Linked DNA regions of Homo sapiens. The protein of the gene in region 6 purifies or fractionates together with the protein of the main gene of each other region. This does not show direct contact. Each region holds a gene or a part of one and is shown on either strand. Other genes may lie near its edges. The genes, in order: TUBGCP3, ROBO1, KIDINS220, TVP23C, SACM1L, CMKLR1 and SLC25A46.

Region 1 (4,135 bases), on a different chromosome or scaffold from region 6:
AGGCCAAGGCGGGCGGATCACGAGGCCAGGAGATCGAGACCATCCTGGCTAACATGGTGAGACCCCTGTCTCTACTAAAAATACCAAAAATTAGCCGGGCGTGTTGGCGGGTGCCTGTGGTCCCAGCTACTCAGGAGGCTGAGGCAGGAGAATGGCTTGAACACAGGAGGCGGGGCTTGCAGTGAGCCAAGATCACAACACTGCACTTCAGCCTGGGCGACAGGGTGAGACTCCATCTCAAAAAAAAAAAAAAAAAAAAAAAAAAATACTGAAAGGAGTCAGGTCAAAACAACAGGAATCAGAAGCTAGAAGAGGCACCCTGATACACCTGCATCCAGTCCTGTGGCAAGAGCCTTCAGGGATGAGCTGTGGGATGTAACTCCAGGATGCCTGGGGGCAGCTCTGCTGTTCAAGGAGCCCACAGCAGAAGCAGCCTGCAAGGGATAAACCTGTGTTCTTTCTCATTCAGTTTTATCCAGCAAAACTCCATCAAAAAATTTTTTTTAATTGTTTTTTAAACTTGTTTTCTTTAAGTAAATATGTAGGTTGCATACCTTTCTGTATATTTTTAAAATATATCAGCAGTCACCTATAGGTGTATTTTACTGCATTTATGGTTTGTGGACTAAGACAAATGTGAACATTTTCAAGTATGAAAATGAACATAAAACATACTAATTTTGTAGACACAAAAGGACACGTCAAAAGTGAGGTGTGCAAGAAGAAACGTCCTAGAGTCTGGAATGAGACAGACCAGGGGGTAAAAATCCAGGGCTCCCGCTGGAGGTACCGCCACGTGTCAGCCCCTGACGGTATGAACCTCTAGGCTCATCTACAAAGGGAGGAAGAATAAATGCGGTAACGTAGGGCAAGCGCCTGGCACAGTGTGGGCACAAAGGTGCTTACTAAACCATAGGTCAGTTTTCTTAGGTAATATTTACAGAGAAAACGACATGGAATCTGCTCAGGCACAGCATCACTCTTTACCAAAACTCCATCCCAGCCCCAGGGCAGGAGAGCAGACACATAAACACATCAAAGCTTTGAAAAACCTGCTGAAATATGCGGCCAGGTGCGGTGGCTCACGCCTGTAATCTCATCACTTTGGGAGGCCAAGGCGGGCAGATCATGAGGTCAGGAGATTAAGACCATCCTGGCTAACACAGTGAAACCCCGTCTCTATTAAAAATACAAAAAAATTAGCCGGGCGTGGTGGTGGGTGCCTGTGGTTCCGGCTACTCGGGAGGCTGAGGAAGGAGAATGGCGTGAACATGGGAGGCGGAGCTTGCAGTGAGCCGAGATCGCGCCACTGCACTCCAGCCTGGGTGACAGAGCGAGACGACTCCGTCTCAAAAAAAAAACAAAAACAAAACCTGCTGAAATAATCAAATCATTATCCAACGTGTAGAATCTAAGTATTTATATACAGGTGTATGTGAGTCAGCTTCTGAGAAGTCTACAACCAAAAGAGTGGAAGTGCAGGCAGAGCGCGGCAGCGCCACACACACTCAGAGGGAAAAGGCCTGTGGTTAGCAGAGGCTGTTTCCACCTTGGTTCATTAAATGCACATGTAAGTTTCACACTTACAAAACAGTATCTTCATTCATATATGATTTTGCTCCATTTGGTATGTCTAGAGCCAGGACACCTCCAAGGCTAATTGTGGGCACTGGTAATACTGACACAGGACATAAATTATGCAAGGCATAAATTAGGGCACACGGTCACCCCACTGAGAGCACACGCTGGCTCTTCAAATAAGATAAATAAACCATCACTCCTTCAGCAACTGGATGGCACCAAGCAATGACTCCAAACAGCAGGAAATGGAAGAACAGAGACAGCTTTGGAACAGAGTGACACGTCACACCCTAGTCCATACCTGCCATCTACTAGTCAGGGCAACTTGGTCAAATCAATCAAACTTGCTGAGGTTCAATTCTCACATCTGCAAAATGGGGACAATTAATGCTTGCCCTGATCATTTTAGAAGGCTGCTATGATAATCGATAAGGAGAAAGAAGATAAAAGAAGAGCCTCTAAAGTCCAGTACTATAAACAGCAGTCCCCGACCTTTTTGGCACCAGGGACTGGTTTTGTGGAAGACATTTTTTCCACGGACCAGGGTGGGATGGGGGGGCAGAGTGGTTTTGGGATAAAACTGTTCCCACCTCAGATAATCAGACATTAGATTCTCATACGAAGCATGCAACCTAGATCCCTTGAATGCACGGTTCACAACAGGGATCACACTCCTATGAAACTAATGCCATCACTGATCTGACAGGAGGCAGAGCTCAGGCGGTCATGCCTGCTCGCCCTCCACTCACCTCCTGCCGTGCGGCCCAGTTCCTAACAGGCCATGAACCAGTACCGGTCCACAGTCCAGGAACTGGGGACCCCTGCTATAAAACATAATATGATACTACTATAGTGATGATCAATCCATCTCCTGGAATAAAATATCTACATAATGGTTTAGTTATCCTGTATTGATTTTGTGTGTGTGTTTTGCTTCATGTCTATCAAGTTGACTGGGACCTATCAGTGACACTTGCATAAGATGATGATATAAACCCAGACATGATAAAACACTCCCTTCGGGAAAAGGGACAGGGACTCTAAAATTACAGCTGGCTCCTGAGGGGACGGCCCACCAGTCCTACCTGCCTCGAGAAAGAGCCAGCTCACTCCTATCTGCCCTTGCAATGAGGGAGAGTGGTGGCTGGTCATCGAGCAATTCACTAGACTGGCAAACAGAACAGAAAACAGTACTAGACTGGGAAGCAGCATCTTTATACGCATTCTCTCCCCACCTTCACAATCCTAGAGGTAATCACTACCCCACTCTATGCAGGAAGAAACTTGTGGCCAACAGAAGATAACCTGGGCAAGATGACGTGACCATTACAGGAGAAGCCCAAACCAGAACCCTGGGCTGCCTCGCTTCAAAGCTCAAAGTGTGATGCCTACTCAGCAGCCACGCTGCCACAGCACACTCCTCCCCACCAGCCACGCTCCTCCCCACCAGCCACGCTCTTCCCCATCAGCCATGCTCCTACTCAGCAGCCACACTGCCACAGCACACTCCTCCCCACCAGCCACGCTCCTCCCCACCAGCCACGCTCTTCCCCATCAGCCATGCTCCTACTCAGCAGCCACGCTGCCACAGCACACTCCTCCCCACCAGCCATGCTCCTACTCACCAGCCACACTGCCACACTACTCGCCTACTCACCAGCCACACATTCTTACCCACCACCCACACTCCTCCTCACTAGCCACATTCCCAACCACCGGCCATGCTCCTACTCCCAGCCACGTTCTTACCCACCAGCCATGCTCCTCCCCACCAGCCACACTGCCACACCACATGCCTAATCACCAGCCATGTTCTTACCCACTAGCCACACTGCCACACCAAGTGCCTACTCACCAGCCACATTCTTACCCACCGGCCACGTTCCTGCCCACCAGCCACACTACAGCACCACACTCCTCCCCACCAGCCATGCTCTTCTCCATCAGTCACGCTCCTACTCACCAGCCACCCTCCTACCCACCAGCTACGCTGCCATAAGTCCTGTGCTACGCTGAGCTTATAGTACACAGTTGTTCTGTGATTCAATAATTTTTGGAGATTTCATTGGCAGTAATTACTGCCCAATAATCAACCTATGGACAAGACCACATGCTGCTTAGCCACAAAGAAGGGCTGGACAGTGGAGATGCCACGGCTCCTATTAGCTGCCCCCTGTCAGGCTCCAACAGGAGGAGAAGCAGCAGCAGCTCCCTCCCAACCATGCACTGTGCCATCGGCAGTGCCCACCCAGGGCTGTCCAGACAGCCATAGCCAGGATTCCCATCTCCAGCTTCGGCAGTGTTCCCAAATCCTGCCTCACCGTGCTGCCTGGGGAATCACGCAGCTGGGAGTGTCCCCTGTTGGCAGGCCCCGTCCCAGCAGGGCCCCTCCTCAACCTTCTGGAGGAGGCAGCAGCAGCTGGGCAGGGCCCCCTTCGAGCGTTTGGAATCGGGCAATGCCAGCTCCCCATGGCCAGCTCTGTCTCACCATTTTCTCTGTATTTTACAGTCCTCCAGCAGTTCCTGAGCCAACCTGCTGTATTCAGTGTCCTCA
Region 2 (4,135 bases), on a different chromosome or scaffold from region 6:
TAGATGTTCCATCAATATTTGCCCTTCCAAAATCGGCCCCCACCCCCCAAAAAAAGGAAGAGGAAGCAGCAGCAGCTCGGAGCAGATATCCAGTTGGTAAGATGACTTTGTTTCTTATGGACCTATACCTCTCCCATGAGGGATAAAAATTAGGATATCTAAGGAGTGGGGGCATTCACCTTATATTGTTGCCACGGTTTTTGGACTTCCTTTAGCCTTTTCGCACATATCTTCCTGCTCCATGCCTCTTCCAATTTAGCCCTGTAGGAGCTGCAGAATTGAAGCACAATGACACAGCTGCAGATCCCTGGTGGAGCCTTGCTTCAGAAAACAGCTGTTAATCACATGTTTGTTGTATTTTCCTATTTACTTCCTTTTACTTCCCTTCGCTTCCCTTAGCCTGTCCTTGAACCAGTGTTACCATCTTCTGGGCTCTACTCTATGAAGGTTAGTGATTTCCAGTGATATAGCACTGAGCTGAGCATGGGAGGAGGGGAGAGACTCAACAGCTGCCTAGGGAGTCCCAAAGGTTTAATGCCAACTTTCTCTTACCCTATACTGCACAAAATAAAGAACAAATACCCTAATATCTCCCCAAAGAGAACTGCATTGTTCTGTATAATTTTCTTTTATCTTATAACATAGTAGAATCAATTCAAATACAAAATAACATTGACCAGAGATGAAAAGGAAGCTATACACTTGTGTGCACTATTTGGAAAGTAGTGTTGTGCTTAGCTATAAAATCTCACTTTTTGGCCTTCATCTATACTTAATACATTAGGAACTACTTTTATTTAAGCAAGATTTAATGTATTACTTTCATTACAAAGCTGAGAAACTCTAGACACCACAAAGATGTGAATTTTAAATGAAAAAAAGCAAGGCAGTAAAGTAAGCCCCTGGCAGCTTGATGAATGAGCAGGTGCAATGCACCATTTGAAATGTATCTTGAGGTGAGCTTCCACCAATCTGCTGGAGAATGAGCTCCTTCTTGCCACCTAAACTCAACTGATTTTCCTCTTTCTGAGACCACAGACAAAAACATGATAGCATACAATAGGCTAGATTATGACCTGGTCACATAATCATTTATCTCTCTAAACTTGCTGTTGAAGTGAGCAATGTTACTGTTAATGTATTCATATTTGTACCTAAAATATATTAGTGCCAATTCTCCTAATTCTATAGGAAATTGAGGTCCTAGAAGGCTAACTGACTAATTCAAAACTACATAGGATAAAACTGTAGAAACAGTGTTAGTCACCGTACCTGCAATAGATATTTCACTTAATCCCCACATAACCCTTTCAAAGTAGGCTTTATTAGATGTCTACAACACATGAAGAGAATGAAGCTCAGAGAGTTTAAGGAAAATAGACATGACTATTCAGCCAAAAAGGGGCAGAGCCAGGATTAAAAACAAGTTCTTTCTCATGACAGAGTACATGCTTTTCTAGTATGTCATACTGCTGCTTTTAAGGGAGCCATTCTCTTCAGTTAACTGGACCTACCTATTTTCCCCCATATTTAAACAAGGAGTTTGATTATTCCTTGAATTTTATTTTAGTACTCATAATTTTTTAATCTCCTTGATATCTTTTTCATGTCCAAAGCATTATCTGCATTTCTCCAAGAGCAAACTTTTACAGTTACTTTCCAAGGATCTCATAAACAGTAAATAACTTTTTCAGAAAATATACCCCACCCCTATCTGCCACCCTGCCTGTATCATCTCTGGGGGTCAGAGCACTTGGGGAAAACTGAGGGGCTTTCCATTTTCTTTGAAATTTGTGCATATGTAGCCAGGATGCCTGCTAAGGATCCAGTACGTCAGTTTCAGCCAGTTGTTCTTTTCTGCCTTTCCATTTCTGCACACGTGTCTTCTCTAATCTGCAAAATTATCTTCTTCATTTGGCCAAACCCTATCCATTTGTCTAGGGTGGTTCATGTTCCTTCTCCACCATAAAATTTTTCTTATTATTCCAACCCTATTGCTGTTCCTTACCTCTGAAATTCCAAGTAATTTCCAATAACATCTGCTGTCTAATTTGGTCTTTATTCAGGGATTAAGAGGAGTAAGCTAACATTTTTTGAGCCTTTACCTTATATACTTTTACATACATTATCCATCAACTATAAATTTCTATTTCTTCATTATATTTCTGCATTTTGCCCTTATTATTTTTTCGCACTCGATAGTCACCCAGATGTTGTGATACATTTCCGGAGTTTCAGTAATGACATTCAAATTTTATATTTCTTGTCCATGCATTGCTCCTGATTGTCATACCTATATTTCCAAAGATCTAATTTCATCTCCACCTAGAAATGCATCACAAGCATTTTAAAGGAAACTGTCCTAAAGGAAAGCATTCAAAGCCACAGGTATCATCCTCCCTGCCACACTTGCTTATCTCTTTAGATTTCCAAGTGGTAAATAGCACATCATGCATCAAGACACATTCCTCTTTGCTATGTCCCTCTGCCTCATTCCCTATGATCATGTAGTGAAAAGAAAAAAAAAATTATGATTTTTCTCTTGAACTTCACCTCTTCTCCTCATGGGCCTGCCCTCCAATTCTTACTTCCACTTCCTGGGATCAGCCATTTGAAGTCATGTGCAACAAGTTTGGCGAGCTATCTGTCAGGGCAAAAATGACAATTTCTAAACTCCTTAGTCATTGAAGGTACTCTGTGATATGAAGCATGAATTCTTCTTTTCAGTCTTCAGAATTATCAATTACTATGAAAATTTACTTGCATTTTCTTAAACACTCAGGATGTTTCATTCCTCTCGGCTTTTGTGTGTGTGTGTGTGTGTGTGTTTGTCCAGAATTCTGCCCCAAATGGTTCTCACTTTCTTATTTTTTTAGCGATGTTTGAAAACACAAAACAAGTGTCACTTCTTCTGTGAAGACCTTCATGTTAAGAAAATAGGTTTAAGTATTCCTCCCTTTCTGATCATTTAATAATGCCTCTGAAATTCCATTGTAATCATTTATTCGTTTCTACTATGAGACTGCGCTATGTTCTGAATGCTGTGTCTTCTCCAAATTCATATGCTGAAATTAAAATTAGGAAGTGGGGCCTTTGGGAGATGACTAGACCATGAAAGCAGAGCCCTCAGGAATGGAATTAGTGCCCTTATAAAAGAGGTCTGAGTAAGCTCTCTTGCCCCTTCCCCCCCGACTAAACATAAGAAGATGGCTGTCTATGAAGCAGAAAGTGGGTCCTCCCCAGACACCAAATCTTCCAGCGCCTTGATATTGGACTTTCCAGCCTCTAAAACTATGAGAAAAGCATTTCTATTGTTTACAAGGCACCTATTCCATAGCACTTTGTTGTAGCACCCTAAAGATACTAAGACAGACTCTAAATTCTGTGAAGCAGTATGTCTCAAACTTTGTCCATTGAACCAAATAAATCTTAAAAGTGAAAAAAGTAGCCCTTAAAACACCAGTCCCAGGATCCCCCATCAGAATTACTACAATAGAATATATGGGGGTGGGGCACTTGAGTCCACATATTAACAGAATCTATTCCAGGTGTAACTAGGAACAGGGAGTTTATCACAACAATTGCTCTCCAATTCAGTCAGATCAATATGGCACTTAATTTAGCATTTGGGGGAGGAGCCATTTGCAAAGCTTTTTAGATCTTATTTTGTGTCTTCCCAGATTACCGTGCTTCAGAGAAAGATTTGCTTAGAGTATAGTAAATTAGATCACATGAGTCACTCTTACTGAAGTACAAGAGTCCTGCATCAGAAAGGCAGATTTGCCAAGAGCAGAATTTCAGTAATCACATGTGAACATGGCATTTAGAGTTGAGGTGCTGCTGTGCAGAGTACTTGGAGCTTTTAATGACTCTGACTTTTTATTATTATGACAAGTTTGATTAGCAGACACAAAAATGAGTGAAACAAGTTCCCTTGAATTACCACCCAGGTTAAGTAATAAAAGATTAAATGTAATATTGAAGTTTTCTGGGTACTCTTCCAGATTGAATCTCCCTTCTAAGAGGTAACCAGTGTGGTAAATTTGCTGTTATTATTTCTATGCATTTTCTCTTGAGTTTACTGTATATATTACATATTTAATTCATATATAGTATTGTCTTAAGTAAATAAAAT
Region 3 (4,135 bases), on a different chromosome or scaffold from region 6:
ATCAAGAATTGAACTTACTGAGTTTTCACTCTGCTCAGTGGAGAGCAAAGCTTTCCGTAGGAATTGTGTATTTGCATCTTTACAATGGCTTTAAAAGCCTTAGAAGGCGTAAGTTCCTTGAATAACTTGTAAGTAGTAAAGCTGTCATCTGTCCTCCCAACCTTGGTTTTAGGAGAGATGTATTGTAGGTCACTCTTGCTTCAGTGTGGCAAATGGATTGCAGGTGGCAGGCCTGGAGAGAGGAGGCAAAAGTTGCTAGCCTGTCACATTGATCTGGGTGAGAGATGGTGTAGTAGAAGTTTTTAGGATTGATGCCTAGATCACAACTGTTTACTCTTTTCTGGAAACAGTGCCAATATGGTGTGACCTTGTAACCCCCTCCCAACTTTGTGTCTCTAGTTGCTTGGTTCTGGGTGTGCAACAGATCCAGCCTGGGCAGTCAGAGCCCTTTTCTGGGACTGTTGGATCTGGGAACAAAGAATAGCCTGCTTTCTCTGGTGTTAGAGACTATCTGATTTAGGCCAGGTGCGGTGGCTCACACCTGTAATCCCAACACTTTGGGAGGCAGAGGCAGGCGCATCACTTGAGCCCAGGAGTTTGAGACCAGCCTGGGCAACATGGTGAAACTTCATTTCTACAAAAAATAGAAAAATTAGCTGGGCATGGTGGTGTGCACCTGTAGTCCCAACTACTCAGGAGGCTGAGGTGGGAGGATCGCTTGAGCCCTAGAGGTCAAGGCTGCAGTGAGCCATGATCGTGCTACTGCACTCCAGTCTGAGTGACAGAGTGAGACCCTGTCTCAAAAAATAAATAAACGATCTGATTTGAGGCTGGATGGCTGTGGGAAGCCATATTTCCCTTTGTGTAGAAGTAGTTGGTCTAGAAGGAAAGTAGATTAAGCCAGTAGAGAAAGAGAATCCTCCTGGCATTTGAGGTCCAGTGGCACCCACTCTTCCTGTAGTGTGGTTATGGGAAATAAACCATTATCCTTCAAATACATTTTTCTGTTTTGCTTAAGCTAGTTTAAATTAGTCTCTTGCAACCTTAGGGGTCTTGATTAGTATAGATGGTGAAGGTCTAAACTAAGGCACTGAGTGTGGGGTTGGGTGATCTCACACTTTAGGGGGTAAACTGGATGAAAAATGGTAGCTGTGTGACTCAGAGGGAGATGGGTGCCTTGGTAGAGTAGAGATGAGGATGGTGTTCTACATGGAAGGAGCACATTGAGCATAGGCGGGAGTGTGGAGCAGCACTGGGGGAGTGTGGTGAATTTGAGTTCTTCTGCTTGGCTGGGCTGTGGGGTGAGCTGGGGCTGGTATAGAGGGAGAGCCAGATCCTGCAAACCTCACTGAGGCCTTAGGCTTGATCCTAGAAGGAGTGGGAATAAATGAAGGTAGGTGTTGGTGATGACTGCTAATACAAACCCTCACTGCTTTCTAATGATAGAAGCATCACATTCCAGAACATGTAGGAGATAAAGGTTTTAAAGAAAATAAAAATTACACTAATGCCCATCACCATTTGTTCTTTTTTTATTTCCAGTATTTAAAAATGTATACATTTAAAATAGCTGAGATGCTGTATATATAGCTCTTAATCTTTTACCTCACTTCTTCTATCATGAGCATTTTTCTGTAACACATTTTTTGAGACATTTTGATGACTGTATATTATCCTACTTTGTGAATTTTTATAATTTATATAATATCCATTTCTAAGATTTTTGTTCTTATGGATAAAATTGTTTTACTTAAAATCTTAAAATTTTGTTCATGTTTCTCATGTTTTTAGAATAATTCCTAGAAGTGCAACTATGGGATCAAATAACATCATTTTTTAAAATAATAGTTTTTCACCCCAAGAGTATAAATTCAAGTTGTTCTGAATATATACTCCCTAAAAGTAAGGTATACTGATTTATACTTTACATGTAATAACATTCACCCTTTTTAATGGACAGTTCTGAATTTTGACAAACGAATGATTGTGTAACTGCCACAACAGTCAAGATATAGAACAGCCATTAACTCGCCAAATTCTCTTGTACTCTTTTGTAGCCATCTCATTCCCCTGCCTTAGACCCTGGCAGCCCCGATCTGTTTTCTGCCCCTGCAGTTTTCCTTTTCCAGAATGCTATATAAGTAGAATCATATAGTGCTATAGTTTCTGCCCTCTGGCCCCCAGAGATAGATTTCCTTCCTGTGTCAAAACATATTCACTCCATCGCAAGGCCTCCCCAAAAGTCTCAGTTCATTTCAGCATCAACCCAAAGTCCACAGTCTCATTTAAATCTCATCATCTAAATCAGGTATGAGAGGGTCTGGGTGTAGTCCATCCAGAGGCATGATTCCTTTCCACCTGGGAAACGCAAGAATCAAGTTATCTGCTCCAACTTAGAGTTAGGGAATGGGCATGGGATATCAGTTATAGACAGTCCTGTTCAAGGGTGGAGGAAAAGGAAGGCAAAGAGGATTCACCAGTCCCAAATAATTTCATTTTCATAACAGCCAAAGTTTTCAATTTTGACGAACTCTGGTTTATCAGTTTTCTTTTTTTATGCACCATGCTTTTAGTGTTATATCAAATCTTTCTTAATCTAAGGTCACTGAAGTCATCTATATTTTCTTCTAGAAGTTTTGTACTTTCAGACATTATATTTAGGTCAATTTTGAGTTAGCACCTGTATGTGGTACAAAGTATGGATTGAGGTTTATTTATTTGCATTTGGATGTCCAGTTGAATATAATAAAATTTCTACTCTTTTAGAACTTATAGTTATGGTAGACAGACAATAAGTGAACAATATGTCATTTTTTGGATGGTGGCAAGTGGTGTGGAGAGCAGTGAAAGCAGGACAAAGGGTTGAGAGTGCAGGGTGACAGTGAAGCCTGTGTGGGGTCGGTACCCTGACATCCCACATCCGGTGAGACTTTGTAACCAGGTGACCTGACGGGGTCAGGGGGTAAGCCGTGTGCATGTCCTGTGGAAGAGAATTTTAGGCAGACAGAAAAGTAGCACAGAGGCCTGGCGAGGTGGGACGGTGCTCAGTGTGGCCATGCAGCCAGGAGGGTGAGAGGGGGTGGTAGGAGCTACAGTCACAGGTGTCACACAGGTGAGAGGCTTGCCACTGAAGAGTTATCTTGGCCAAGGTAAAAACATTTGATTTTACTTTGAGCACCCCGAGAAGCCCTTAGAGGGCTTTGAATAAAAGAGGCCATGCTCTGACTTAGTACTGCTCACATTGTGGTTCTTCCTCAGTGTTGTCAGTGTCACAGGGAGCTGGATAAAGATGCAGAGTCAGGGGCCCCACTCAGACCTGCTGAGTCAGAATCTCTGACGGTGGGGCCCAGGAATCTGCTTTAAAAGCTCTTCAGGTGATTCTGATATATGTTAAAGTTTTAAAAAAAGTAATGTAATTTTAATTGACAAATTATATATATTTAGGGGTACAATGTGATGTTTTGATACATGTATCCATTGTGGAATGATCAAATCAGGCTAATTAACATATTCATCACCTCCCATACTTAATTATTTATTTGCAGTGAGACCATTTAAAATCCACTCTTCCAGGTAAAGTGGAGGCAGGGAGGCCAGTTAGGAAGCGATGATAGTGACGCAGGTGAGTCACGGTGGCTCGTCCAGGGTGGCAGTGATGAAGTGGTGAGTAGTAGTCAGATGTGAAATGTATTTTACAGGTAGAGCCAAAAGCATTTGCTAATAGATTGAGTGTAGGGTGTAAGAGGAAGAGGTAAGTCATGAACAATTTCAATGCTTTTGGCCTTGGAAGAATGGACCTGGAGCTGCCGTTTACTGGCATGGTGACAGCAGGAGGAGCAGGGGAGCATTTTGGAGTGGTGATGAGGAGGGTTTGGGGATGGATGTGGAGTTTGGTGTTTGGATAAGTTAAGATGGAGGTGAGTGTGAACCTAAGAGACATCACGGCAGCTTTTTGACACCTGAGCTATGGAAGCCGTGGGAAGTCGTATCTTCACTTCTGCCACTGGAGGTGTCCTTGCATGAGGTTAATGTTAAGAAGGATATTGTATTTAATAGTAACTTAATTTTTTCTAATTATAAATTATGTGTATTTTGTCTAATTTAACAGGTATTCAAATAAAGTTAATTGCAGCTT
Region 4 (4,135 bases), on a different chromosome or scaffold from region 6:
TGTAGGCTGCAATTTTGTGAATTTTTGCATGAGTGAAAAATCAGACCTTGGTGATTACCTTGAGCAGTAGGATATAAATAACTCCTACATGCTTAGCGTTCCAATAATGGAACACTAGGCATAAGTAGGTTAACACAGGATCAAACTGGCTTTCACATAACCTCTCCCTGTTTTGTTTTAAGGAAGTAGAAACACTGCTAGAAAAAGACTGGGCTCACTCTCTTGGATGGATGCTAAAGCTCTAAGGTCTTACAAACAATCCAAAGCAGAAGGGAAGAACCAGAAGAGAGTGCACAGCCAACCAGCAGACAAGAGCCCCACTAAGGAAGAGAACGCAAAACCAGGCAGCCCAGCCAAGACAGCAAGAGCCTGGTAAGTTCTCCACATCGCACATCACACCTGTGCCTTCAGGCTACCAAACCCAGCACTGCAACTCCAGCTCAGAGCAGCAGCCACGTGCCTCAGACATCAGGAGAAGGTGGTCAAGGGGGATTCACCCGCACTAAACCAGCAGAAAGAGAAGGGCTGGACAGGACTGTCACTGTAAGGATAAGCAAAATGGATAAGGAAAAAGGGAAGTGCATTTATGCAAAACTATAGCGAAAAAAGAAAAAAGAAGCATAGTATACAGAAGATAGGTGAAGAATCTACTCGAAAAGAAAAAAAACCCACCAAAATAAAAGCATTCCTGGGACTATTTCACCCTACAGAAAAACCTAAAGAAAAGAACTCAAAAAGCATGAGGGTGAGATAACAGGAGATGAAAATGGAGCTGACAAAGCTAAGGAAATACAGAGAGAAGCCTTAGCTGAGCACTTAAAATAGTTACTGTTCTCTCCTCTGCACTCTCTACCCCATTACTTTGTATCATTAACTAACATCCCCTACTGTATTTTTTACTGTTTATCTACCTTCCACTAGAACATAAGCTCTACTGGAGCAGTCAACTTGTTTACTGTCCCCTAACTTGTCCCCCTGTGTCCCCAGACAGCTCTGACATAAGAGTGAACTCTTAAAATTGCTGAATAAATAAGGAAAAGATGAATAATTAAAGCAACAAGAAAATAGTAGATGAAAACAAATAAAAATGATCCAACATAAACGTAACTGGTACTTCAAAATAAAAGGTCAAACCATAGAACATAAATAAATGCAAAGATTTAACAGAAAAAATTTTCCTGATTCCAAGCAAAACTTTAGTCTGCCTGTCAGAAAGGCACAGACTCCAGAAAACTTGATATGGAAAGATAAATACAAATACATCTGGGTTACATGAACTAAAAAAAAAAACACCTTATGAGGAGAGATTACAAAGGTTAAGTAAGCCTGGCCTCAGACTTCTCCAAGATATTCAGTGAAAGAAAATGATGGAATAGCATCCTCCAAAAAGAAACAAACTGTGACCCAAGAATATTAATCCAGCCAGGTCATCATTTAAGAATAGTCAATAGGCTCATATGTTTAAACATGAGTCAAAAGAAAATGTAGCCAACCAATAAGTAAAAGGAGAAGCTGCAATAAGACTGGTGATAGGCAATGAATTGACTTTTTTAAAAAACAGATCAAAGACTGAACAACCAGTAAGAAATATGTTTTCAAAAGATAACTATTATAAAACTTGGTAACACAAAAATAACATTGGAACAAACAAGAGAGAAAGGAGGAAACTCATAGGAAGGAATATGAGTGTTTATTTTCTTCCCTTTCTAAACAGAGTCTATTAAGTCAATAAACAGGTTTAAGTACATTAATTAATGTTACAAAGAAAACCACTAGAAGGACTAAAATAAGACTATAATAAGCAAAACTCTAGAGGTAGGAGGAGGGAGAAGTTAAAGAAACCATATTAGCGTAAAGTTTCCCATTTTCCAGAGCAGGAACTCCATAAATACTGAATACATTTCCTAATTCATGAAAGAGGGTAATGATATAACATATAAAGTAATTAAAGGTAACTACCAGAAGAACTGAAAAAAGACAATAAGCTTCCAATAAGCTTCCAAATCCAAAGAAGGAAAGTATGAATGTATGAGCACACACAAAGAAAAAAAGAATCTATATCACAAAATAGGACTAAGAAAATACTACAAATTAGGAGGAAAAACATAATTAAGGCCAAAATATATCTGATATCAATAAATATTGTGTGAAAATTCACACAATATTTATTCATATCAGATATAAGATAGAATAAGAAAAAACAATATGAGATATAAAAAAGAGTAAGACTCACAAATTGGGTCAAGTGACAAACTATATTTTCCAAAGACAGCAGCAACAATATCTCCTCTTCCACAAAGTCTTCTAGCACCTTCTTATTCCTTATCAAGAGTAGAGCCTAATTCCCATTTCCTTGAATGTGAGTGGGCAGCAGAAGCAATGCTATGACATCTTAGGCTAGATTGTAAAAGCTTGTGAGCTAGAACACCCCACAAGTGAAGTACTGGGCTGCCACGTAAGCAGTCCCACCACCATGAGGCCACCATGCCATGAGGAAGCCCAAACCAAGGCACATGGAAAAACATGTGGAGAGGCCATGGGACCTCATGAAGAGGAGATGGCTCACAACCCCCATCATTCCAACTACTGTCTGACTACAACTACTCAAGACCCCAAGCCAGAATCTCCCAGCAGAGCCCTTCCCAAGATCCTGACCCATAGAAACTGTGAGATAATGGCTGTTGTTGCTCTAAGCCACTATGTTTTGGGGTGATTTGTTAGGCAGCAATAGGTAACCAAAACAGATTACCAACCATTATTTCCAGAAAAGACCACTAATATCCTAGAAAACTGGTGGGAAGGGGTTTTTTAGGATCTCTTCTCCAGTATTATAGAGAAAGGTAAAGTTGGGAAGCAAAACTTGGGAATTACATGATGAAGCTGCCTATTCAAGATAGGTCCCTAATGATAAGGACTCAGTTGCAGTTGTTGCTTCCTATGATTACCATCAGACATCTTAATGGATTATTTGAAAGTTCTACACTGATACTCACCAGCCACTTTACTGTGAAGGAGAAGAGTGCACTAAAGGCAAATATCACCCACAGTACTGAACAGGCAATAAGTCCCAACCAAAAGATTCTTGATTCAGCCTCTGACACAGTTTTATTCTCTTGAGAGGACTCCTATAAAAGAACATAAATTCAATTATCATGTTGTGAAATTTATCAATAAAAAGTTCAACATATTTAATAAAAAACATATTACCCACAAGTTCAAATATTAATACACATAGCCCAACTCCTAAGTTAGAACCCAAAAATACATGACTATCACTCTCGTAATTTTAGGAACTGATCTATATTAACTCAAGAATTTTGCATTTTCAGGGCAGGATGGATGGTTTACCACAACTCATGACAGTAAAGAGTGGTCTCTGATAGGCTTCTATTCAATTCTTCTTGCACTTGTACTATTTATTCATAAGGAAGCTCTAAATGATACCTTTCTGACCAATGATCAAGGAAATCACAGTTATAATCATTCTGGAGACTAAAAGGTCAAATTAGGGTCCAGAGGGGAAAAAAAAAACGGAATCAAGGGATTCTGGACAATAATCAAAATGTCTTAGCAATACCCAGGAATTTACAAGGGTGGTAAGTTGTTTCCAAGGTAGATTCCATAATATAAAGGAATACAGGCTCATTGAACACAGTGCCACTTTCTTAAAATAACTTGTCAATACCCTTGGTGTACTGTCGCCAAGAATTTGGTCCTCTGCTTCCAAAACTTATTTCCACAAGGAAAGTGAATATTCACTATAGTGTAGCAGGCTAACCCAAAACAGACCAGGATCCCCAGGGCTCCTGAAGGCAGAAGCTTAGGAATAGAGTGCTCCAATCAGATATTCTATCCAGCTGCACTCCTCCTCCTTTTTCCTGCCCAGAAATGAAAGACGACCACAGGAGCAAAGACAGAACAAGATGTTAAAAGCAGTTATCTGCTGAGCATAGAGGGATTTATGGAGACACTAACAAAGGCAACACAGAGATCTTTTATCAGCAATCCCTGACAGGCAGCTTAGCACACTGTATGAACTCAGACCCAGTGTCTTCCCTCAAAGGATTCTGTTCGTATATTGCTTGTTTCTGGTCTGAACTAGACAGAAAAATGCATTAAATTCTAGAAGGCCATC
Region 5 (4,135 bases), on a different chromosome or scaffold from region 6:
AAGTTGGTCAGATTTTGAAATAAATTAATATTCTGGATTTAGAACTTTGTTTGTCATCTTAATAATTATCAGCTGTTTTTACTTTTTTCTACAGCCTGGGCTGACAACGCAAATGCTTGTGCCAAGCAATATGCGGGAACTGGTGCCTTGAAGACTGACTTTACCAGGCAAGCCATGCTTTTAAAATAGCATTCCACATCAGTAGTTCACAGTCCTGGTGCTTTTAAAAATCACCTGGGCAGCTTTCAGACAGCAGCAGCAACAACAGCAAGACTCCAGCATCTGGGCCTCACTTGAGACCTGTGGAGTCAGGATTTCTGGGAAGTGAGGCCCGGGTACTGGTGTGTTCTTAGCCACCCTGGGAGATTCTGATGCTTGGGGAGGGTTGAGAGCCACCGCTCCACAGTGCTCCTCAGACCTTACCGTGTACCTGAAGCACCAGTCTTGAGATGTGCTCTAAAAAGCACCCAGGTGATGCTGATGCTGCTTTCAAAGACTGCACTGAGTAATGAGGACATTAATGAGAACATTTTGAATGTATTATGCATGCAGTGGCTCTTTTTCTGCTATGTGGGTTCCCTGGGAGCAGAATAAGATTTCTAGTCTGTTTGCTTTGCTGTGTCCTACCACTTAACCTGGGCTATGTATTTCTCTTCATATTTCTTGTCTTTGCAACTGGAATTAGTGTGTTTCTTTGTGCCTCCTTTGGTAATATTTTAGAAAGAAAATAGGTATTTCTTGGACCTACAAGTGATTTCTTTTGTGAAGTATCTGTATTTTCAGGGATAGTTTTTAAAATCTGTCACTCACTTATTTCTATACCTTATGCTTATTGGCCATAAAACAGTGTGAGAATTCAGTGTACAAACCTGTAACTTAAAATTTAACCTCTTTAACCAGAACTGGAAAGAGAACTCATTTGGGACTTATAATGGATGGCTGGAACTCAATGATACGATATTATAAGAACAACTTTTCCGATGGATTTAGACAAGTAAGTTTGTATTTGATGCTTTCCTGGCATTACGTGGTTGTATCTTTGCATTGTTCATCACTAATGTTATCTCACACTGAGTTTACGAATTTCTTCCTTTCTGTTCTAGGATTCCATAGACTTATTTCTTGGAAACTATTCAGTGGATGAATTAGAATCTCATAGTCCTTTAAGTGTTCCAAGGGACTGGAAATTCCTGGCTGTAAGAAACCATTTTGTATTTTTCAAGTTTTTAAAAGCATTGTGTCTGAAGGTATAGATGGTTTCAGTCTCAATTTAAAACGTTATATGTGGTTTTATATTTCATTACATGAAATATAAATACTTAAGTTTTCCAAAGAGGTCAGGCTGAGGAGTACAGTAACTGTGGAGCATTTGTTTTCTTTTCCTCAGACTCTCACACATCCTTTTCATGTGAAGTAACATAAGCAAAGGGAATGTGGAAGCTTTCTCATTTCAGGAAAACTTCAATTCTCTTACATTGAGGGAATTGCCAGAGACAAACGTGTTACATGGAAGGCAAAGTTTATTTTTGATGCTTCTCTCCTTTTTGACTCCTCTGTTCACCAGACCCTGCAAGAGCCGCTCTGGATTTTCTTTCCAGTGTGTCAAGTGCTCTGGAATGGAAGGGAGGCCTAGTGTTCTAGGTCCTCATCTGGGCATCCTCCTTCCATTTAGCACCCTTTGGCTTGGAGCAAAAGCATGCTTCTTCCGATCTTACCACATCCCCCATCTAAAGTCTAGGGCAGTTGTGATTGAACCCATAAATAATAATGTTTTGTTGACAAAAGATATTAGCTGTGTATTAGCTGACAGATGAGTTTTATTCTTTTCCCAAGCAATGCATGCACAACTGATTTTGCTGCCATTGATTAGCATTCTTAAATGATGATCTCTTTCTATTGTCTTTTCCAGTTGCCTATTATCATGGTTGTTGCCTTTTCAATGTGCATTATCTGTTTGCTTATGGCTGGTAAGTCTGCTCCACACATTTGTTTCTTAGTTAGAATGTTGACCTTTCTTTTACAACATCTTAAGTTTTTGAGTTCACCGAACACTTGATGTTTCCCTATTAAATTTAATGGGTAAAGTGGATGTGACATTAGATTGTCATTAGATGTGACAGGAAGAAAAATAACATACCTAGTAGTTTGATGGTTGTCGTTTTTTTTAACCTCAGATTTTAAAAACATGTTTTTCTTATTACTGTAAACCAATGAGTGTCTGAGACAGGTCTCAGTCAGTTTAGAGGCTTAATTTGCCAAGGTTGAGGACCTGCCCAGGAAAAAGAGACACAAGATACAGTAGGATCAGTATCTTGTGCTTTTTCCAAAGAGGGTTTTAAGGACTTCAGTATTAAATGGGGAAAGAGTGTACAGGAGAGGAAGGAGGAATGGAAACAAAAGGGGAGGGTAGGTAGTAAGATAAGTGGTCACATTCTTGTGAGGCTTTGATTAGCACTCACTGAATCCATGTTACATGTGAAAGGACGGGGTAGAGGAACAGTCAATTATGCATTCATCTCCTGCTCAGTAAATCTGCATTTTATGTAAGACAAAGTAAACATAGAGTAGATAAAGAAGTCAGATCTGCATTTGTTTTGGGGTGGGCGGAGGGATGATTTTCTAGTCTTGTCTTTGTCCCATACCTGTGAAAATAAACTGTTAATTTACATTGTCAGGGTGAGGGAGATTCAACAGGACTGTCTTTTAGGGTAAAGATTTTGGGGCCCACAAGGAATTTGCTTGTGACAGTTTGTGAGGGTGGCCATCTGTGAGGATATGTGGCCCACTATCTTTGCAGCTGTCTACTTAGGAACAAAAGGAGGGTAGTTTTGTGAGACTCAGTTCCCAAGTTTAACTTTTTCCTTTGGCATAGTAAATTTGGAGTCCTGAGATTTTATTTTCCTTTCACATTACCAAAGTAATACATAGTAATTATAGAAAGCACACGTAGGCAGAAAAGGAGAAAATATTATTTATCATCATACCTTTGAGAGAGAAGCTAACCACTCTTAACATTTTGATGTTTTAATCTTTATAAGTGTCTGTGATTTTTTTTCAAAAGTGAGATACGTATTTTCATTATCTGCTTTTTTTCACTGAGCAGTATGTTTTCCCATGTTCTTAATTGCTAATGGCTGCAAAGTATTCCATTTATGGATGTATAGTTTAACCAACTCAAATAAATGTTAATGGATTAAGATATTACTTATCATTACATTTTAAAGGTTGAGAGTAAAATTGCCTGAGAACCTGAGGAGACAAGGTCTTTACTGGTTTTCTTTTTTCTCTTAATATTTTGCTATGTTACTGAGTTAATAAAGCATTTAAGATTAAAGTGAGAAGAATGTATTCTTTATTCTCCTTTGAGTAATGTCCTGTAATTTGGAGGTTTGAGTCTGAGACTTGGTGTATTGGACGTTGGAGATGCAATCCTAGTCACTCTGAAAGAAGAGGCACCTTCCAGCCTTCATCCTCTATCCTGAATTCGTTGAGCCAACCTCTCTCTGCCTGTCTGAATTCCACCATCCTCAGGGCACCATTCATATGCTCCCCTCTCACAGAGTGTCTCTCCCACACAGAAGTCTTCACCTTCTGTCTGGATTTCCACAGCACTCCTGGTCCTCTCTCCCAGCACTTTCCTCTTTTAACCTCATTAATACATAGGGAGTTATTTTTCAGAGGTGGTATACCTCTTTGGTGTACCTGACATACCCAGTGTGTATTTCTTTTTGGATGGTAATGATTTGCATACTTGTTTGTTTTTTTCACTGGATCAGCAACTTTTTGAAGGTAAAGACTGTGTCTTACTCATTGTTTTATCTCCTTTGTCCAGGATATAGTGAGCCCTCAGTAAATGTTTGCTGAATTAAGGACTCACTCCACCACCACCACTAATTCTGTCACCTTTTTGATAGGGAGGCTCAGTTACCTGTTCATCTCTGTATTCCCCTCAGTGCTCAGCCCTGTAGACAGTCGTGACATAGTTTTAACTAAATGCTGAAATGTTGAGTAGGGGGAAAGAAAGAGCCATCTTATTATTATTATAGTTAGCAAAATTTTTCTGTAAAGAGCCAGGTAGTAAATATTTTTGTCTTTATGGATGGCTGTACATTCTTTGTTTTTGTGTTTATAACCA
Region 6 (4,135 bases):
ACATGCGGTGGCTCATGCCTGCAATCCTAGCACTTTGGGAGGCCAAGGCAGGTGAATCACTTGAGTCCAGGAGTTCAAGACCAGCTTGGGCAATGTGGTGAGACCCTGTGTGATGGTTAATACTGAGTGTCAACTTGATTGGATTAAAATATAATAAGTATTAATCCTGCATGTGTCTGTGTGGGTGTTGCCAAAAGAGATTAACATTTGAGTCAGTGGGCTGGGGAAGGCAGATCCACCCTTACTCCGGTGGGCACAATCTAATTAGCTTCCAGAGACTATAAAGCAGGCAGAAAAACCTGAAAAGGAGAGACCGGCCTAGCCTCCCAGCCTACATCTTTCTACCATGCTGGATGCTTCTTGCCCTCGAACATCGGATTCCAAGTTCTCCAGTTTTGGGACTCAGACTGATTCTCCTTGCAGATGGCCTATTGTGTGACCTTGTGATCATGTAAATTAATACTTAATAAGCTCCCCCTTTTTATATGTAGAGAGTGAACCGTAAGAGAACCCTCTAAGAGAACCCTGACTAATACATCCTGTCTCTACAAAAAATACAAAAACTAGCCAGACATGGTAATGCATGCCTATAGTCCCACCTACTCAGGAGGTGGGAGGATTACTTAAGCCCCAGAGGTCGAGGCTGCAAATGAGCTGTGATCATGTCACTACACTCCAGCCTGGGTGACAGAATGAGATTTTGTCTCAAAAAATAAAAAATAAATCAATAGGTGTCAAACCCAGGATTAGAACTCACATCTGCCAGACCACAGGGCCTGCCCTCTTCTCACTACACCACACCCTCTCTCCATTGACTTCCTGTTTCTCTGACCCCTGATTTCCAGGAGGAAAAACCAAGTGTGCTCACTGTTGTTTTTTGTACCCATCTCCCCACCCACCCACCTCCTTGCACAAGAGCTGCCCTCAGCAGGAACCCAGGGCTGGAATCTGAGGACCCATGTCCTATACCCCAAGAAAGCAGAACCGATTCTGACATTCTGCCTGGATAGCAGCTGACCTCCCTGCTGAGTCAGCCGCTGGTACTTCCAACATTGCCAGAGACTGTCTATGGTGAAGACAGTGAGGCCCAGGGCACTCTCCACCAGCAGAGCCCAAGACCTCTCCTTGGGGCCAGACATGGAGGCAAGAGACTAGCCCAAATGACATTTTCCAGTCTGGGAACCCAAGATCACAAGGCACCAGACACCCAGATGTGCAAAGGCCAATTTCAAAGCTCACTGTCCCAAAAATAAAAATAGAAATGCCTTCACTGAACTGACCACGTGCTGTACTCAGTGCTTGATGGATATGGACTCATTTAATCTCACCATAACCCTGACAGGCAGGTACTCATAGCATGCCCACCTTATGAATGAGGAAGCTGAGGGGCTCAGGAGGTTAAAGTTCAGAGCTGGGATCTCAACTCTGGAGCACTTGGATCTGGGATCTATCATCACCACAGTGTGCTACCAGCCAACGTCACCCAGACGTCAACATTTCTTTCTCTGATAGCACCACGTAGAATTACTGCCTCTTGATTCCATCTGACAGTGCAAGGATTTCTACTTTTTCTCATTCATACCTGTGTCCATTGCTGCAAAAATCTAGAGGTTCTAAAAAGAAATAACTGGTTTCGTGCTATCGCCTGAAACCAGCATGTCCTGAGTCCGGCGGCAGCTCAAAGTGGCTGCCAATAACAGGGGCTCCTCACTGCATCTCAGTCCTGGCCTACGGCCACCTCCTCAGCAGGGGCTATGGAAAAAGTGCTGGGCTGGAAGCCAGGTGTTTCAAGTCCTAATCTGGCCAAATGATCTTGGGAATGTCACGTAACCAATCAGGGCCTCACTTTCCTCATCTCTCAAATGGGTTCCACAAGGATAGGAATCCTGTCTTTCCATCGTTCTTGCCCTGTGGAGAGCCAGACGTGTAGTAGATGCTAATAAATGTTTGTTGAGTGAATTAATAAAAGTATATGTTACAAGTTTGTCTCTCCTCCCCTGAGGGCCTCAAAGACAGGAAGCAGGTCTGATTCATCTCATTTTCTCACAGTGCTGCAGCTGTTACTCCCACATGCATTTATTCACACAGGAAAGTGCTCCCAGGCACCCACTATGTGGCCAGCCCAGTTGAAGCCTCAGTGTCTTCCAGGACCACACAACACCCTCATGCACTGTCCCTTCTCTTTTACACAGCCAGTGGCTGTAATACTTGGTCACACTGTACTTCTTCACCCCAGGACCTAGGACAACCACCCAGCTGCCTTACAGTCAGCAGCCTTGGCCCATTCTGGGGAGTTTGAGCATGATTCCTGAGCTTTCACTTCCCTCATGCCCAGCCCTGGGGGAGCCCAGCCCAAGGAAAATCCCGACTCTAACCACACCATGTACACGTACATGAACACCAACATTCAAATGTGCAGTGGGGCCCTAGGACAGGAATAAGATGTTTTTCGTTCAAATCCCATTCTTTTGCTATGAGCTGTGTGACCTTAGGCAAGTCCCTTTAGCTCTCTGAGCCTCATTTTATTCACCTATAAAATGGGGATGATAGTCCTGAGGCCTTTCCATGTAGGCTTGTAGGGAGATTCAAGTAGATAATGGATATAAATACCTTTGGCTTAATAACCCGCAGCATGTTCTATCAAACCATTATTCTTATTTCCTTTTTCCAGGGGGAAAAGAGAATGGCAGTTGCCTATGTTTCAGAAAAATCCATGTTTAGGGGCCTGGAGTCTGGAAATTTACTTAGTATATTTGATGGGAATTACCTTGAGGATAGGTGATGTTGTGAGTCCAACATCACCATGTTAACTAAGATTGACTAATGGAAATGTAGACTTAGAATCAAAGAATGGAAGCAACCCAAGAGGTCACCACATTTGTGACAGAGACAGGTAGCTGTCCACAAAAATTCATTCTCCCTGTCCACAATACACGACTGTGGCTGGGAAAGAGCTGCTCTTTGCCAAGAACCTCATATCCTTGTAACTCCATGTCCTGGCCTCCTTTGCAACTAGATTGGCCACATGATAGTTCTCATGTGAGTGGAAGTCATGTCTGCTGCTTCCAGGCCAAAGCAGATAAGCAAATATGCCACCTCCATACTTTCTTTTGTCTTGTGCACCTGGCTGCAGACAATGAGGATATCTGAGGAGAGAGTGGGACCACCAGATGAGTCACTGAAGTACCATGAGGAAGAGGACCACCCTCCATTCAGAAATACTTGCCTTATAATAAAGCTCTGCTTTGCTTCAGCCCTTATGCCTTTGGGGACCTATTTGTTACTGCAGCTACTACCCTAGCTGATATACCATTCGACCTCCTTATTTACAGATGAAATTATTGTGGCCAAAGAGTAAGAGTGCCTTGCCAAGGTCACACAGTAAGCTCAACAAATGTCTAGAACTTTGGTCTCTTAACTCCTTGGAGTAGAGGAGTTGCAGTTTCCTGCCTGCCCCATGGAGCTACAAAGATTCTTAGAGGCCCTTCAGCAACAAGAGTGAGATTTAGTGGCAGCCTGGAGTCTTCCACCTCTGTTTCAACAAGAATAACACCACCTTTATCTGTTTTCAAATTACACTTCCCCATAAGACTTTCATTTGTGGAAAGGATTCTGCAACTGAAAATAATTTCAAAGCCTCCATGCTGGGGGATTGCTAACACGATCTGACTTTCTGTGGTACTATAAGACAAAGTTTCGCTTCTTCTCTGCCAAACCTTCTGGCCTCAACTGCTGACACGGAACATGTGGATTCACAGAAGTACATGAATATTTGCTTAGAAGGGAAAAAAGAAACCTTATTGTGCAGCAAAGAACCCAAGACCCCAGTGTGAACAAAGGGCAAAAAGGAAAGACTTTTAAGCACTCTAGGTTGGTAGTTCTCAAGTTTTGGGGTGCATCTGAATGACCTGGGGTGCTGGTTCAACATGCAGACACTGAAGCCTCATCCACAGAGATTCTGATTTCCAAACTGAAGCTTTAAGAAACACTCACAATTGGCCGGGCGCAGTGGCTCACGCCTGTAATCCCAGCACTTTTGGAGGCCGAGGTGGGTGGATCACAAGGTCAGGAGATTGAGACCATCCTGGCTAATACGGTGAAACCCCGTCTCTACTAAAAATACAAAAAATTAGCC
Region 7 (4,135 bases), on a different chromosome or scaffold from region 6:
TTTGCCCCTGTGCTCCACTAGCCCATTCTGTTGGTTTTTATCCTGCCTTCTGGTCTCTCCTGACTCCTTTTCAAGACCACCTTTCTTAACCCAGCCACCCCTTGGTTGGAGTTCCTAAGGTTCAGACTCTATTCTTCTACCATAGTGTATCCTTCTTCCCTAGCGACGCTCATATCTAGGGTTAGAGCTTCAAAATCTCCCAAATTAATTTACCTTCAGTTAAGAATTCTTTATATGCCAGCCCCATATCATGTGCCTACAGACAACTCCATCTGGATATGATAAAAGATCTGAAAATGCACTTGTACTAAAGTCCAACTTAAAATCTTTCTTTTCTACTTAAACTCTTTCAGTGTTCCCTACTCAGGAACTATTAATCAGAAAGGAAATCTATTGAATTTGAGGAAGATTTCATTGTGTTTAAAATAACGTGTGTTTAAAATAAGCAAATTCGGAGGGAACCGTTGGAGGAAAACTACAAGATGTTTACAGTGGTATAACCACAGATGTGTGATGAGTCAAAACTAAGTTGGAGTTGAACCAAATGGGTTTTGTGAGAGACTGAACCACACAGGTAGCCTTGGTTACAGGAACTCCTACCTCGCGTTAACAGTCTGAAAAAAGCCACATGTAAATTAAGTAAAGGGTACTGTGGGGGTAGAACGACACATGGTTTAACTCACTGCAACTGGGAGAGAGAACAGGGAAGGGTTTAGCAGTATCTACTGCTAAAGAGATCACACATGACGATCCTGGCTAATATATAATTTGTTAAAAAGTAATACTACTGAGAAATTATAAATTTGCTGACTTAATGAACACTAGAGATCTGCTGTTTTTCTCTTTGATTTGATCATAAACTGTATTTAAAAACCCCTAAATATTGGCAAATCTGTACTATCTCCCCTGTTCTACCTAGTAAATGTTACGCAATTAAAAAACCCCAGGCTAGGAGACCTCAGAGCTCATCCTCCTCATGTAGTAGCTTCTGTGAACTGCTGTTAATGTTTTGTGACCTTGTTTGCTCCTTCTTCCCATTAATAGGATACAGAAACAAACTCTGCCTTCTTCCCATTAATAGGAAAGGTCAAATCTGCCCAAAGAAGAATAAATAATTTTTTAAAAGATATTCACACTATACTTCAAAAAAACAGCTTCATTTGACAACTAGTTACACAAGCCCAAATACAAGAAGTCATTCTTCATACTGCCTTCTCTTTGATCTACCATTCCTAAAGCATCACCAAATTCCCTCAGTTTGACCTAAGTATATTTCAAAACTGTCCACTTACCTCTATCTCAAAAGATACCACCCTGATCTTAGCCACTATCTTTTCTTACCTTTATTATTGTAATAGAATACTAAGATGTCTCCTTTTATTCACTTTGGTCCTCATACAACCTTTTCATCTACAGTTACAATGACCCTTTGAAAACAAATCTGATGTCACTGACCTTACTGAACCTCTTCAATATTCTTAAAATGGCCTACAGGGCCACACATGTTCTGGCTCCCACCTGCTCTGTACCCTTACCCTTGGCCAGAGCTCCAGCCATGTGAGGCTTCTCTCAGTTACACCTGAATTCTCTAGGCTCCCCACTGCAACAGCATTTTTGTACAAACTGGTATGTACCTCCTAATTACCACTCTGATCTACCTTAAGTGTCATGTTACTAGGGACACTGTTTCTAGCCCTTTAATACTTTCATGGAACTATATTCTTTTGCTTCAGAAAACAAATTTCAATTTGCAATTATTCATTAATGGAATTATTGTTCTTAGTGAATGTACTTTTATTAGATTCTGAGCTTCCTGGCAACAGTTACCTTTTGTTTATTTTCCTCACTGTAAACCCGGTTTTTAGCACAGAACCTGGCACATAGTAAGTACTCAGGAAATGTTAGCCAAGTAAATGAATGAATTAATGAGTGGGCCTTATCACCAAAATTATCCAAGTAGAACAATGCAATAGAGGTTACTATTTTGTCTTCTTTGGAAAGATTCAAAATGATGAAAATATATTCCCACTCAGTTGACATGTCTGTCTACTGAGTAAGAAAGTTAGATGATAAAATTTTATAAAGTCCTATGCCTTCCCATTCCTATTTTTCTTTTTTCTTCCCTGTAGCCTGAAATTAATGTTATTCCTTCATCTCTGCTTTAGAGAGGCAACATTACTTGCATAAGGTCCCAGAAATAAAAAGTGGAATAGCCAGGACCTGAACCAATAGTGTTCTGGTTGCAAATATAGTCAACCCTCCATATCCATGGGTTCCACATACATGGATTCAGGCAACTACGGATTTACAATATTTATTTAAAAAAGGGATAGTTGCATCTGTACTGAATGTGTACAGAGTTTTTTTCTTTCTTGTCATTATTCCCTAAACAATATAGAATAACAACTATTTACATAGCATTTACATTGTATTTGGTATTACAAGGAATCAAGAAATGATTTAAAGTATACAGGAGGTTATGTACAGGTTGTATGCAAATACAACACCATTTTATAAAAGGGACTTAAGCATCTCTGGATTTTGGTATCCACTGGGGGTCCTGGAATCAATCCCCTACAGATATGAGGAACAACTGCATTGAATTTTTTTCACTCTACCAAATGGAATTTCCTGCATTTTGTTATTTTTTTACAGAATTGTTTGTTAAAGAATTTCAAGAATATTTGACTATAAGTACTAACTTGGGATCTTATCTAGTGATATAAAAGCAATAAAGTGAATAGTTAGCCAAACAACGAAATACAGATTTTTAAAGAATAAAACAAGAAACTCTGAGCTGCCCAAATGTTGCTGACCTTTCTAATCTTTGTTTTGTTTCAAACGTTTTAGCAAAGTTTATTTAAGGCACTTCAAGACTACGAGGTCCTTCAAAAGCAATCACATTGGAAAAAAGCTTACTATCAGTTTCTCTTGCTTTCATTTCCTTCCCTGTAAGGACTAAATCCCAACATTGGGCATATGCGTTACACTAGTAGCTATGCCTTCAACTATCTCACTTCTTTAACAATGCAAAAAATTCACCTTGCCAGAGAATAAATTTGGATTAACAAACCATTCCAAAGCCTTTAACATTATCGATAGGATGATATACAAAAATATAGTGCTGATATAGAAAATCAGAGTAATGCCAAATAGCACCTTAAAAATTTCTAATTTCCAATATTACCTATTAACATTCCTTTCATATACTCTTTGTAAGATTCCTTTGTTACCCATCATTGTGACTGTCCCAAATGTGTATCATTCCTCTCATGCTTTTCTACTACAACCCCAATGCTTATCATTTTTTCACCAAATAACCCTGTATCCTGCTTCACAGAGAAAAGAGAGACCCAAAAGCAAATTTCCCTAATTTCTCTACCCTCTCTCTCAAATGTATCTACACTTCTAATTCTCCCATTTTTGGTTTCTAGAACATGATTGTCCTACATCTTATGCTATTTCCAATTTGTCTGAGGCCCTCTCTAATTTCTCTCATTATCTCCCCCAACTACCCCCCTTCCCACCGCTCCCACACACACACGGCACACATGTATGCCTAGGATTCTGTCCTTGGTCCATTTTATTCATTTAATCTATGCTTTCTCCTTAGGTGATTTCATCTATCCTAAGCTTCAGCTGCTACTTTTATGCCACAATACCCAAAGCTCTCCCTGTGCTTCAATTTTCTATTTTTTTTTTTTTACTCTGATCCATGGTTCCAACCAAATATGAGACATGTCCCTCTCCCTCAATGTCTTGCAAGAATCTCAAACTTCATTTATTGAAAGATAAATTCTTTATCTTCTTCCCTACTCCAACTTTTTCTTCTTCTTGAATTCTCCATCTTGGTTAACATTTTCCAATCTAGAAATCTCAGTCACTACTGACAACTCATTCTCTCCTATCTCCAATTACCAAGCTAACATAATGACCATCGACTATACTTCAGAAATGTCTAGCCAGCTCATCCCTTTCTGTTCTGTTCCACAGTTCAGAACCTTCTCAGCCTCGCCTAGATTATTACAATAGATCTCCATAAATCTGTCTATACAACTCCATTTATTTTATACTGCCATTTGAATATATCTTGATCAGAACATCTATATATTAAAAAAAGAAACACATTCCAAAC

The links.
Region 1: the proteins of CMKLR1 (region 6) and TUBGCP3 purify together in Homo sapiens (affinity purification with mass spectrometry; one large-scale study listed by BioGRID and IntAct). This does not show direct contact.
Region 2: the proteins of CMKLR1 (region 6) and ROBO1 purify together in Homo sapiens (co-immunoprecipitation; 2 studies listed by BioGRID and IntAct, with this or other methods). This does not show direct contact.
Region 3: the proteins of CMKLR1 (region 6) and KIDINS220 purify together in Homo sapiens (affinity purification with mass spectrometry; one large-scale study listed by BioGRID and IntAct). This does not show direct contact.
Region 4: the proteins of CMKLR1 (region 6) and TVP23C purify together in Homo sapiens (affinity purification with mass spectrometry, with the first as the bait; one large-scale study listed by BioGRID). This does not show direct contact.
Region 5: the proteins of CMKLR1 (region 6) and SACM1L purify together in Homo sapiens (co-immunoprecipitation; 2 studies listed by BioGRID and IntAct, with this or other methods). This does not show direct contact.
Region 7: the proteins of CMKLR1 (region 6) and SLC25A46 purify together in Homo sapiens (affinity purification with mass spectrometry; one large-scale study listed by BioGRID and IntAct). This does not show direct contact.

Annotation. Positions count from the first base shown.
Region 1 is NC_000013.11:112,549,751-112,553,885, forward strand, and holds part of TUBGCP3 (gamma-tubulin complex component 3), read right to left. Parts: intron 1-4,135. UniProt on the Homo sapiens protein: Component of the gamma-tubulin ring complex (gTuRC) which mediates microtubule nucleation.
Region 2 is NC_000003.12:79,761,303-79,765,437, reverse strand, and holds part of ROBO1 (roundabout homolog 1 isoform a precursor), read left to right. Parts: intron 1-4,135. UniProt on the Homo sapiens protein: Receptor for SLIT1 and SLIT2 that mediates cellular responses to molecular guidance cues in cellular migration, including axonal navigation at the ventral midline of the neural tube and projection of axons to different regions during neuronal development.
Region 3 is NC_000002.12:8,827,103-8,831,237, reverse strand, and holds part of KIDINS220 (kinase D-interacting substrate of 220 kDa), read left to right. Parts: intron 1-4,108; 5' UTR 4,109-4,135. UniProt on the Homo sapiens protein: Promotes a prolonged MAP-kinase signaling by neurotrophins through activation of a Rap1-dependent mechanism. Provides a docking site for the CRKL-C3G complex, resulting in Rap1-dependent sustained ERK activation.
Region 4 is NC_000017.11:15,542,792-15,546,926, forward strand, and holds part of TVP23C (Golgi apparatus membrane protein TVP23 homolog C), read right to left. Parts: intron 3,126-4,135; coding exon 2,994-3,125; intron 1-2,993. Other genes in the region: TVP23C-CDRT4 (uncharacterized protein LOC100533496), read right to left, coding at 2,994-3,125.
Region 5 is NC_000003.12:45,737,678-45,741,812, forward strand, and holds part of SACM1L (phosphatidylinositol-3-phosphatase SAC1), read left to right. Parts: intron 1-94; coding exon 95-167; intron 168-900; coding exon 901-994; intron 995-1,103; coding exon 1,104-1,196; intron 1,197-1,909; coding exon 1,910-1,967; intron 1,968-4,135.
Region 6 is NC_000012.12:108,332,268-108,336,402, forward strand, and holds part of CMKLR1 (chemerin-like receptor 1), read right to left. Parts: intron 1-4,135. UniProt on the Homo sapiens protein: Receptor for the chemoattractant adipokine chemerin/RARRES2 and for the omega-3 fatty acid derived molecule resolvin E1.
Region 7 is NC_000005.10:110,748,901-110,753,035, reverse strand, and holds part of SLC25A46 (mitochondrial outer membrane protein SLC25A46), read right to left. Parts: intron 1-4,135. UniProt on the Homo sapiens protein: Transmembrane protein of the mitochondrial outer membrane that controls mitochondrial organization.